4 separate regions of the Homo sapiens genome follow, and all the other regions are linked to region 2. Evidence: fine-mapped expression QTL. A gene starts in region 2. Each other region holds a variant in brackets. All regions are shown on one strand. Distances are between the middles of the regions.

Region 1 (2,500 bases), 25 kb before region 2:
ACACTTCCCAATTTTGAAATGTATTATAGCCAGATACAGGGTAGTCCCAGCTACCTGGGAGTGGAGTCTGAGGCAGGAGGATGCTTCAGCCTAGGAGTTTGAGGCTGCAGTGTGCTATGATTGCACCTGTGAATAGCCACTGCACTCTAGCCTGGGCAACATAGATACACACACACACACACACACACACACACACACACACACACATATACACACACACACACATTATAGTAATGAAAACAGTATGGTACTTGCATAAAAACAATATATAGAGCAAAGGGACAGAATAGAGCTCCCAGAAACAAATCCATGCATCTATAGTCAACTGATCTTCAACAAGGATGCCAATAACACACAATTGGAAAAGGATCATCTCCTTGATAGTGTTGGAAAAACTGGATATACAAATGCAGAAGGATGAAATTGGATCCATGTCTCACACTATATACAAAAATCAACTCAAAAAGGATTACAGATCTAAGCTTAAAAGCTAAAACCATAAAACTCCTAGAAGAAAACATAGGGGAACATTTTCTTGATATTGGCCTGGGAAATGATTTTTTTTTTGATGTGACACAAAAAGCACAAGCAACAGAAGCAAAAATAGACAAATGAGACTGCATCAAACTAAAAAGCTTCTGCACAGCAAAGGAAACAACAGAGAAAAAAGGCAGTCTAAGGAATGGGAGAAAATATTTTCAAACTATGTATCTGATAAGAGGTTAACATTTAAAATATATAAGGAACTCATACAACTGAATAACAAAAAAAAAAAAAGAAAGAGAGAATAAATTTAAAAAATAAATAAATAACCCTACTTTAAAATGAGCAAAGGACCTGAATAGACATTTCCCAAAAGAAGGCATACAGATGGCCAATAAGTATATGAAATCATCGGAGAAATGCAAATCAAATGAAATGTCACCTCACACCTGTTAGAATTAGTATTATCAAAAAGACAAAAGCCAGGTATGGTGGCTTGCGCTTATAATTTCAGCTATTCAGGAGACTGAGGTGGGAGGATCACTTGAGCCCTGGAGTTCAAGACGAACCTGAGCAACATAGTGAGACTTTGTCTCCAAAAATTATATATATATAATTTTATATAATAATTTTAACAATTTTATATAATAATTTATATAATAAATTATATATATCATTTTTATATATAATTTTGTCTCCAAAAATTTTATATATATATACACATATATATATACACATATATATACACATATATATACACATATATATATACACATATATATATATATATATACACACACATATATATAGAGAGAGAGAGAGAGAAGAGGGTCTCACTTGTCACCCAGGCTGGAGTTGGTGGTGCAGTCTCAGCTCACTGCAACCTCTACTTCCCAGGCTCAAATGATCCTCCTGCCTCAGCCTCCT[G/A]AGTGGCTAATTTTTTTTTTGTTTTTGTTTTTGTAGAGACAAGGTTTCACTACATTGCCTAGACTGGTCTCAAACTCCTGGACTCAAGTGATTCATCTACCTGGGCCTCCCAAAGTGCTGGGATTACAGGTGTGAGCCACTGTGCCTGGCCCCCAAAATTTTTTAAATTTAAATTTAAATTTTTTAAATCACCAAACTCCATGCCTGGCATGTGCCTGTAGTCCTAGCTACTCAGAAGGCTGAGGTGGGAGGATTGCTTGAGACCAGGAGTTCAGGCTGCAACTCCAGCCTGGGTGACAGAGCAAGACTCCCTCTTGAAAAAAAAAAAAAGGTTTATTTCTTTATATTAGCAATGGAAGTAGAAATTAATAAATAATACTATTTATAATAGCATCAAAAATACTAAATGTAAAGATATCTGACAGGAGATGTGCAAGACTTATACACAAAAACTACAAGTCATTGCTAAGACAAATTGAAGTTCTAAATAAATGGAGAGATATACTGTGTTTATAAATCAGAAGACAATATGGCTATGAATTCAGTGCTCTCCAAATAATTCATATATAGATTTAATGCAATCCCAGTGAAAATTCCAACAGGCTTTTTTGTAGAAATTGACAAGTTAACTCTAAAATTTGTATGGAAATGCAAAGGACCTAACATAACCAAAACAACTTTGAATAATAAAAACAAATTAGAAAATGTCACTATCTAACTTCAAAGCTTTTTATAAAGTTATAGTCGTCAGGCCTGGGGGCATGATGGCTCATGCCTGTAATCCCAGCACTTTGGGAGGCCAATGCTGGCAGATCACCTGAGGTCAGGAGTTTGAGACCAGCCTGCCCAACATGTCAAAACCCCGTGTCTACTAAAAATACAAAAATTAACCAGGCATGGTGACAGGTGCCTGTAATCCCAGGTACACAGGAGGCTGAGGCACGAGGATTGCTTGAACCCAGGAGGCAGAGGTTGCAGTGAGCCAAGATTGTGCCACTGCACTCCAGCCTGGGCGACAAAGTGAGACTCTGTCTCAAAAAAAAAAAAAAAAGGTTATGGTCATGAAGACTACGTTTTATTGGAATAGAAA
Region 2 (2,500 bases):
AACTCTCGAAGTTAAGCCCAGGATTTTAAAAAGAATTTTACTTCTGACGGAGGGCCACAGTGCCCGCAGGGCCCGTACCTGCTATCCTGGGAGGTTTGAGGGTTGGGGTGGTGGGGAGAGGAGAGTCTCTTTCGGCAGACTGCACCTCCCCACCCCTTCCCTATTTACCACGCCCCCAGGCGCTGTGCGGGCGGAGGGAGGGTGAAGGAGCAGTGGGGAGGAGGCAGGGCGAGAAGACGAAGGAGGGAAAAAGCTCCAGGGCTTCCACTCTCTCGGCAGGACCCCCACCCTGGCCTCTGGTGCGGGAAAACCTCCCAGCTGTTTCTGATTCTTTCATACTCTCAGCCCCGCCCGAGAGGGTGGAGGACCGAGGCACAGAGGGGGAGCGGGGAGAGACTGAGCTCCGCTGAGCCCAGGAGTAAGGGGCGGGGAGTCCGCAGGTGCCCCCTTAGCGTCGGCAGTCGATTCCCGGTCCGTAAAGAAAAGCACCCGGGCCGGGCAGGCCGGGCAAGCAGGAGCCAGGTCTAAACGTGATGCATTGGGGGTGGGGGGTGCAGTGGCTCAGAAGAAGCAGGGGCGATGAGCTCTAGCTGAAAGCATCCCCTGCTAGAAGCCGACTGCCCACGGCGCTCCTGTAGGCAGTGTTGAAAAGGTAGTTAAGACCTCCAACTCCCGGTGGCAGGGACTCTACCCATTTCACAGAAGCGCAAGGATGGAGGAAATGAGTGCATCCTCCGTGCTCAGCGCCGGTGTCACTGTAGGTTGGGGACAGGAGGGAAGTGCCCGCATCCCCTTCCCGCTCCGCCAGCCTGGCCGTCACCCATAGAAGTGGGGCTGCTGAGTGAAGGGCGCTAGGACCCGGTGGCGCGGTGTCGGCAGGGACTGGGCGCTTGGGGCGCAGGAGGGAGCCGCGGCGTCCCGTCGCAGCGTGCGGGAGCAGGTGGGGGTGCAGCGCGGTGGCGCGCGGGAGCCCCGAGGGGCGGAGGCGGCTGCTACACCTAGGGCGTCGCGGAGCGCCCCGGGCTTGGCGCGGGCGGAGCCGCCCTAAGGGCCGCGCGTGTCCCCGGCCTCGGCCCCGCCCCGTCCCGTCCAATGAGAGCCCGCGGCCGAAGGGGCTGTCCGCACACTAGGCCCGCAGCTCCCTTCAGCGCCGCAGACCCCCTGACACCGCACCCGGTCCTCAGGCAGCGCGCCCCAGACCCCGGGTTCGGCACGCCGTCGTCGGCTTCCGGACATCGCAACTTGCGCCCCTCTCGGGGATCCTCCTCCCGGGCTCTGGACCCCAGGTGATCCTAGGTCCCCAGCCGCCGGCGAACACCATGGCCCCCCAGGGGGGTGAGGTAGGAGCAGCCTGAGTACCCCCAGAAGGTGCCCCGTCCACGCCCCTCCGGGCTGCGCGGCGGGAGTCTTCGGGGAGCTATGCTGAGACCGGGTGGTGCGGAGGAAGCTGCGCAGCTCCCGCTTCGGCGCGCCAGCGCCCCGGTCCCTGTGCCGTCGCCCGCGGCCCCCGACGGCTCCCGGGCTTCGGCCCGCCTAGGTCTTGCCTGCCTTCTGCTCCTGCTGCTGCTGACGCTGCCGGCCCGCGTAGACACGTCCTGGTGGTAAGTGTGGCTCTCAGGCTGGGCGGGTGAGGCGCTTGGTAGGAGAGGCCGGAGGCGCCTGGAGGGACTGGCTGCTCACGGGACCAGGCTGTTGCTTCGACGGGTTGGAGACGATTCGGGCAGGACTGTCACTGAAATCTGAAGTCGCGGGGTGGCGGGAGGGTGAGGCGCCGCGTCTTACACGACTGGTGAGAAAGGCGCTGGGCATTCGGAGCAAGGATGCCCGGTGGTCGCGGCTCCTTAGGCCTCCACGTGCTGTACCCCCTCTATTTCAGCTCAAGCCCCTTAGGGCAGAAGCTACCTTCCGAGTTTCCCTCAGGGTGAGTTCAAGGAACGAATAACCTTCCAGGGCCCGCAATAGCTTCGCCAGGGCCCCAATCGCCTAAGGTCGCCCTCTGAGAGGTGGAGAAAGGGGCAGCTCGCTAGTCTAGCCCACCCATACCACAGGAAGGCTTTGGTGAGGCAGCAGCACCCAGCCGAGGCTTAGAAATGGAATCGAGGCAAAATTTACCCCATTAACTCCCACAATTAAAACAAACAAAACGCATGGGTTTGCATTATCTAGGCATTTGTCTTCAGCCACCGTTTTGAGGATGTCACTTAGGAAACTTTGCCTCCCTCCCTTCTTCCTATTCTTTCCCATCTCCCATTTCTCCCCTCCAAGAGCCAGAGGGCTGCGGAGTCCCAAGATACTAAGAGACCCCCTCCCCAGATTTCTTGCAGGCCCTAGACTCCAGACACTTCACAAGAGGGCAGATGAGGCAAAAAGGCATTACAGATCCACTGGATGTCTCGTGTCTGTTCTTTTTAGAATCCTCCCTGCCCCCTACTCCTTGGATGGCACTCATCACCTTCCCGTAGGAGAAGGAGCTGCTTTCCCTTCTTCCCCACCATGGGGA
Region 3 (2,727 bases), 120 kb before region 2:
TAGTGCCTAGAACACAGGTACTCAACATATTTTGTTGAATGAATTTGCTTTAAGAAGGGGGTTATGTCTGGAAGAGAAGATGGGAGGCAGGGTCTGGAGAGAAGTGGCGTTAGAAATTAATGAAGAAACAGGAGTGGCCGGGCACGGTGGCTCACGCCTGTAATCCCAGCACTTTGGAGGCCAAGGAGGGCAGATCATGAGGTAAAGAGATGGAGACCAGCCTGGCCAACATGGTGAAACCCCGTCTCTACTAAAAATACAAAAATTGGCTGGGTGTGGTGGCCCACATCTGTAGTCCCAGCTACTCGGGAGGCTGAGGCAGGAGAATCGCTTGAACCCAGGAAGCAGAGGTTGCAGTGAGCTGAGATCACGCCACTGCCACTGCACTCCAGCCTGGGTGACAGAGACTCCATCTAAAAAAAGAAAAGGAAAAAAAAAAAGAAAGAAAGAAACAGGACTGATGAAGTCTAATGGAATTCCTTGAAATGGGATGGTCCATGGCTTTCTACAAACAGTATTAACTGATACTAAATTTTAAATTTTCTGTTTTAAAAGAAAAATTGTTATAAAACTGGACTGGAATAGAACTTTGTATTACATAAATCATGTAAATTTCTGGTCAAATGTTTATACAGTTGTCTGATATACATTAAAGGCAAACTCTCTCTTGTGGGTGATATTGATGTCAGTGGTGGGCCATCTGGAGCAGCCACTGCCACTGCGCCAACTGCCGCAGGGAGGTGAAAGTGGTGGTGGCAGAAGTAGCTGTGAGAGCAGCAATGGTGGTGGTGGGTCCCCTGTGCCCCATGTCTGGAGACAACTGACTGCACCGCCCCCACCCTTGCATGGCCAGGTGGGACCCACTCCCAGGCCCGGAGCTTCTGCAACTCTGGACCCTGGCACCGCATCACGGCTTTTGCGTGGCGCCCCTGCAGGAAGGGTAGGGGGAGGAGGGATAGCTGGGCCTAGGGCAGTGCTGTGCTCCAAGGGAGTCAGCAGGAGCCAGGGACAAGTGGGAGCATGCCCAGAGCCCACTGTTTGGGGGCCGCCACAGTGAGGCCAGCCGAGCCACCCACTGGCAGAGGAGGAGGGTGGTTGGGCATGCAGGGGTGGGCAGAGAGGGGTCCAGTGAGGACCTGGAGTCCCCCACCCCAGACTGCAAGGAGATGCCACCGGAGCTGCATGCATGCTCCAGGGATTGGGTGACAGCCCCGCCCTCCCAGACACAGGACCTGGGTGTCTCTGTACTCTGCACCCTCAGGGGCCCAGGAAAGCTCCTGCTGCCTCCACAGGCTCGAGGGTGTCTGCTCCTACTGCCTGGCCTTTCCCCACTCCTGGTGCCCACTCTGATCTCAGAGCAGGGTTGAGGCAGATTGCGGGGGGCAATGGGGTGGGGGGAGCTGAGGTGGGGCAGAGGGCAGGTTGGAGCTGGCCTGCAGGTGCCCCTTGGTGGGAGCAGCCTGGTCACCATGGATGGCAATAGGAGGCAGATAGGCTCCTGGGTGGAAGGGGGCAGGTCCCTGGTGAGGCCTCACCTTTA[G/T]GCCAGGGAGGGCCCAAAGGCTGGAGGCCAGGCTACCAGTCCCTCTGACCCTAGTGGGGACTTGTGGTGCCTTTTCCGGGCTGCCCATGGACCAACTGACATGCACTTCCTCCCCTCTGAGGCCAATAAAAGCCCCAGGCTTAGCCAGAGCTGGACAGATGCCAGCTTGAGCTGACCTGTGAATGAGAGCAAATGTGAAACAAACTCTCAAGTACATAGTACATACTATTTTCTTCCCAAACATCCATCCCCACTTTTTCTGGTAATAGAGATAGATAGATAGATAGATAGATAGATAGATAGATAGATAGATAGATAATAGATGGATGGATGGATAGATGATAGATAGATAGATAGATAGATAGATAGATAGATAGATAGATAGATAGACAGACAGACAGATAACATTTGAGGCTATAACTTTTTCCTACTCTTCATCCATGTCTGCAGGCACATGACCTAGATCTAGCCAATAAAAGCAGCCTATCCCTGGCCACGATGACTGGTTCAGGGATGAACACACAGTCCAAGCAGAGCCAAGGAGATAGTGGGATCTTTCTCCCACTTCTGGAAAAGAGCAGGTGCTCTTTCCTATTGAATACGACAAGATATGAAGCCTGAGCTACTGTGCTTATTGCCAGCTGAGGAAGAATGCCTGTCTAAAACAGAACCAACACAGAGGAAGCAAAGTTGAGAGACACAGGGATAGAAACCTGGTCCTGGCTGGGTACAGTGGCTTGCCCCTGTAATCCCAGCACTTTGGGAAGTGGAGGTGGAAGAAGCACTTCAGGCCAGGAGTTCGAGACCAACTGGGCAACATAGTAAAACTACAAAAAATTCAAAAATCAGCCAGGCCTGGTGGCTCACTACCTGGGAGGCTGAGGCAGGAGGATTGCTTGAGCCCAGGAGTTGGAGGCTGCAGTGAGCTATGATCACACCACTTGCTCTGTCACTCCAGCCTGAGTGACAGAGCAAGACCAGAAAGAAAGACAGAGAGAGAGGAAGGAAGGAAGGAAGGAAGGAAGGAAGGAAGGAAGGGAGGGAAGGAAGGAGAAGAAGGAAAGAAAGAAGAAGGAAAGAAGAAAAAGAAAGAGAGAGAGAAAGGAAGGAAGGGAGAGAAAGAAAGAGAAAGAAAGGAAGGAAGGGAGGGAGGGAGGAAGGAAGGAAGGAAGGAAGGAAGGAAGGAA
Region 4 (2,762 bases), 100 kb before region 2:
CCTCATTTTAACTTAATTATCTCTTTAGAGATCCTGTTTCCAAAATCAGTCACATTTTGAGGTACTGGGGCTTAGGACTTCAACATATGAATTTTGGGAGGTACAAGTCAGCCTGTGTTATGTGTATTTAACACATGTATTATAGTAATCCAAATATTCCAGTAATATCTTTCACCTTCATCTGAGAGAAGCTTGATTTGAGATATATACTGTTTAATATTGGAATTGAATAAAATGAGATCAGTTATTATACCTTGATTTTAGAACTTTTGTAAATAGTAACAAAAACGGCTTTCTTTTTTCTTTCTTTTTTTTTTTTTTTTTTTTTTGAGGCAGGGTCTCGCTGTATTGCCCGGGCTGGAGTGCAGTGACGTAATCTTGCCTCACTGCAACCTCCACCACCCGGGCTCACGCAATTCTCCTGCCTCAGCCTACCAAGTAGCTGGGACTACAGGCACACATGCCACCATGCCTGGCTAATTTTTGCATTTTTTGTAGGGACAGGATTTTGCCATGTTGTCCAGGCTGGTCTCAAACTTCTGAGCTCAGGTGATTTGCCGGCCTCAGCCTCCCAAAGTGTTGGGATTACAGGTGTGAGCCACGCCCTTCAAAAACAGCTTTCTTTAACAAATGTACAAAAGATCTGCTTTCTTAATCAAAAAATTACTTTCTTTCTTTTTTTTTTAATTTTTTTTTTTTTTTTTTTTTTGCTGTTGCCCAGGCTGGCCTTGAGCGCCTGGCCTCAATTGATCCTCCTGTTTGGCCTCCCAAAGTGCTGAGATTACAGGCATATGCCACTGCACCCAGCCAGAAAATTATTTTCTAGTGGCACATTGACATGTTTTACTTCCTAGCCTAACCCTTAAATGCCAAAGAGGAATGAAAGGGACCATTTAGAATGTTGTCACTCTTTTATCCCAAATGAATAAATAATCCTTCTGAAAAATTAGAATCTTAAATCTTTTGAGATAGTCAAGGTAGTGTGTCAACACCTTCTACCTCCAATATGAGGTTGTTTTGTATACATTTTAATTTTTTTTTAAGGAGCAACCCTATTAACTGAAGCTTTGAATGCATTTTTTAAAATAGCAGTGCATTTCTGTTCATATTCAGATTTAGTATTTGTAAATGTGGCAAGTTTCTTTTTTATTATTATTTCATGTATACTGGGTTTTTAAGAAAAGTACATGATCTAGTGGCAAACTATCAAAAACACCCATTTCACATGTCCATCTTGGCTCTTTGAGTTTTAAGAATTTACTGGCCTCCTATATTTTGGCTTGGCTTATATGTATTGAAAGAGTATTTACGGGCCGGGCATGGTGGCTCACACCTATAATCCCAGCACTTTGGGAGGCTGAGGTGGGCGAATCACTTGAGGTCAGGAGTTCAAGACCAGCCTGGCCAACATGGTGAGACCCCCGTCTCTACTAAAAATATAAAAACTAGCCAGGCGTGGTAGCACGCACCTGTAGTCCCAGCTACTTAGGAGGCTGAGGCAGGAGAATTGCTTAAACTGCGGAGGCAGAGGTTGCAGTGAGCCAAGGTTGTGCCAGTGCACTCCAGCCTGGGCAACCAAGTGAGACTCTGTCT[C/CAAA]AAAAAAAAAAAAAAAAAAAAGGAGTCTTTACATAATTGGAGTCAATTTCCTTTATAACTTTGCTCGCTAATCACTAATCACTTTGCTCACCAATACTAAAAACTCACTGAATGACCTTAATCTGAGTCATTTGTAGTCCAAATATAAATTTCTTAAATTTGATAGCTGAGTATAAATTTCTTAAGTTCGATATCTGAGTATATAATTAAAAAGTGATTTTTATCCAGCGTTGCAAGAATGCTCTCCTAGGTAAAATTACTGATTAAAAAAAATTAGTCCAGTTGATTTATTTAAATAGATCTATATAGATTTTTTTGAGGCATTTCTATGTCAGGAGCTATCTAAGCCTCATCTAAAAATGTTGTTTTCCTACCTTATGTGGAAAAACCTACCACCTGGAAAGAAATAAAGCCTCAGTTCTATGTAGATATGCTCACACCCAGATAATAGACAGACAAACATCTTGCTTGTACTCCACCCTGCCCTGCCCTGTCCTGCCCTGTCCTACTGCTTACATGGCTATAGAAGCTGTTTAGGGTGTTTCTTTTTCCGCCATTCAGTCTCTATATGGTAAAATGGCAGCAGCAATGCTTGTTATCTTATAGAATTAAGTCAGAATTCCAGAGCAGAAACTGGGACTTCTTCAAGAAAGAAGAAGCATAACCGAAACCAGAATAAGTGGAGCTCGGATAGTATCCAGAGAGGGGAAAATATCAGAATAAAATGAGCAGAGCCACACCAACATACTTCTAGGCAAAATCAGTACTACAGTTAAGGAGGCACAGTGGGGTAGTTGGGGGGATGCAGTTTTTGATACCCATAACTTCTGACTGTTGGCACAAGAAAGTTCATCTAGAAAAGACTCATGCTGTCCTGGCTATTGGGCTAAGATTTCATGGTGGGATGAAACCTGTGAATACACCAAATGGTATGCTGGGCAGGCTCATTTGAAATCACTTATTGATAACATAAAAATAAGTGTAGGCCGGGCACGGAGGCTCACACCTGTAATCCCAGCACTTTGGGAGGCCAAGGCGGGGGGATCACCTGAGGTCAGGAGTTTGAGACCAGCTTGACCAACATGGAGAAACCCCATCTCTACTAAAAATATAAAATCAGCTAGGCATGGTGGCGCATGCCTATAATCTCAGCTACTCAGAAGGCTGAG

Which allele goes with the higher level. Positions count from the first base shown, and alleles are read on the strand shown. Sizes are in standard deviations (SD) of each study's normalised expression. Not every link is listed here.
With allele A in place of G in region 1, the expression in sun-exposed skin of the gene that starts at base 1,122 in region 2 is lower (small effect, 0.15 SD a copy in GTEx).

Evidence for each region. PIP is the estimated chance that this variant, and not a neighbour inherited with it, causes the effect. A credible set is the group of variants that fine-mapping cannot tell apart.
Region 1: its variant is the best candidate, but not a certain one, in a credible set for the expression of WNT2B in sun-exposed skin (GTEx, PIP 0.51).
Region 3: its variant is the best candidate, but not a certain one, in a credible set for the expression of WNT2B in aorta (GTEx, PIP 0.51).
Region 4: its variant is the best candidate, but not a certain one, in a credible set for the expression of WNT2B in subcutaneous fat (FUSION, PIP 0.81).

Annotation. Positions count from the first base shown.
Region 1 is chr1:112,483,016-112,485,515 of GRCh38, forward strand. It overlaps a transcript of WNT2B not described here. Among named protein-coding and RNA genes, the nearest start is that of MIR4256, 22 kb to the left of the region's middle. The variant G/A (reference allele first, on the strand shown) is at 1,411.
Region 2 is chr1:112,507,844-112,510,343 of GRCh38, forward strand. WNT2B (Wnt family member 2B) reads left to right here and starts at 1,122. Exons shown (of 5, transcript NM_024494.3): 1 at 1,122-1,601. The coding sequence starts at 1,420. RefSeq lists enhancers at 390-933, 1,858-2,357 and silencers at 911-1,040, 1,051-1,160, 1,221-1,300, 1,361-1,470, 1,464-1,758.
Region 3 is chr1:112,385,305-112,388,031 of GRCh38, forward strand. No RefSeq gene overlaps it. Among named protein-coding and RNA genes, the nearest start is that of CTTNBP2NL, 9.5 kb to the right of the region's middle. RefSeq lists enhancers at 496-1,031, 1,032-1,566. The variant G/T (reference allele first, on the strand shown) is at 1,541.
Region 4 is chr1:112,407,534-112,410,295 of GRCh38, forward strand. The region is part of intron 1 of CTTNBP2NL (CTTNBP2 N-terminal like); the gene reads left to right. Among named protein-coding and RNA genes, the nearest start is that of CTTNBP2NL, 13 kb to the left of the region's middle. RefSeq lists a silencer at 220-407. The variant C/CAAA (reference allele first, on the strand shown) is at 1,594.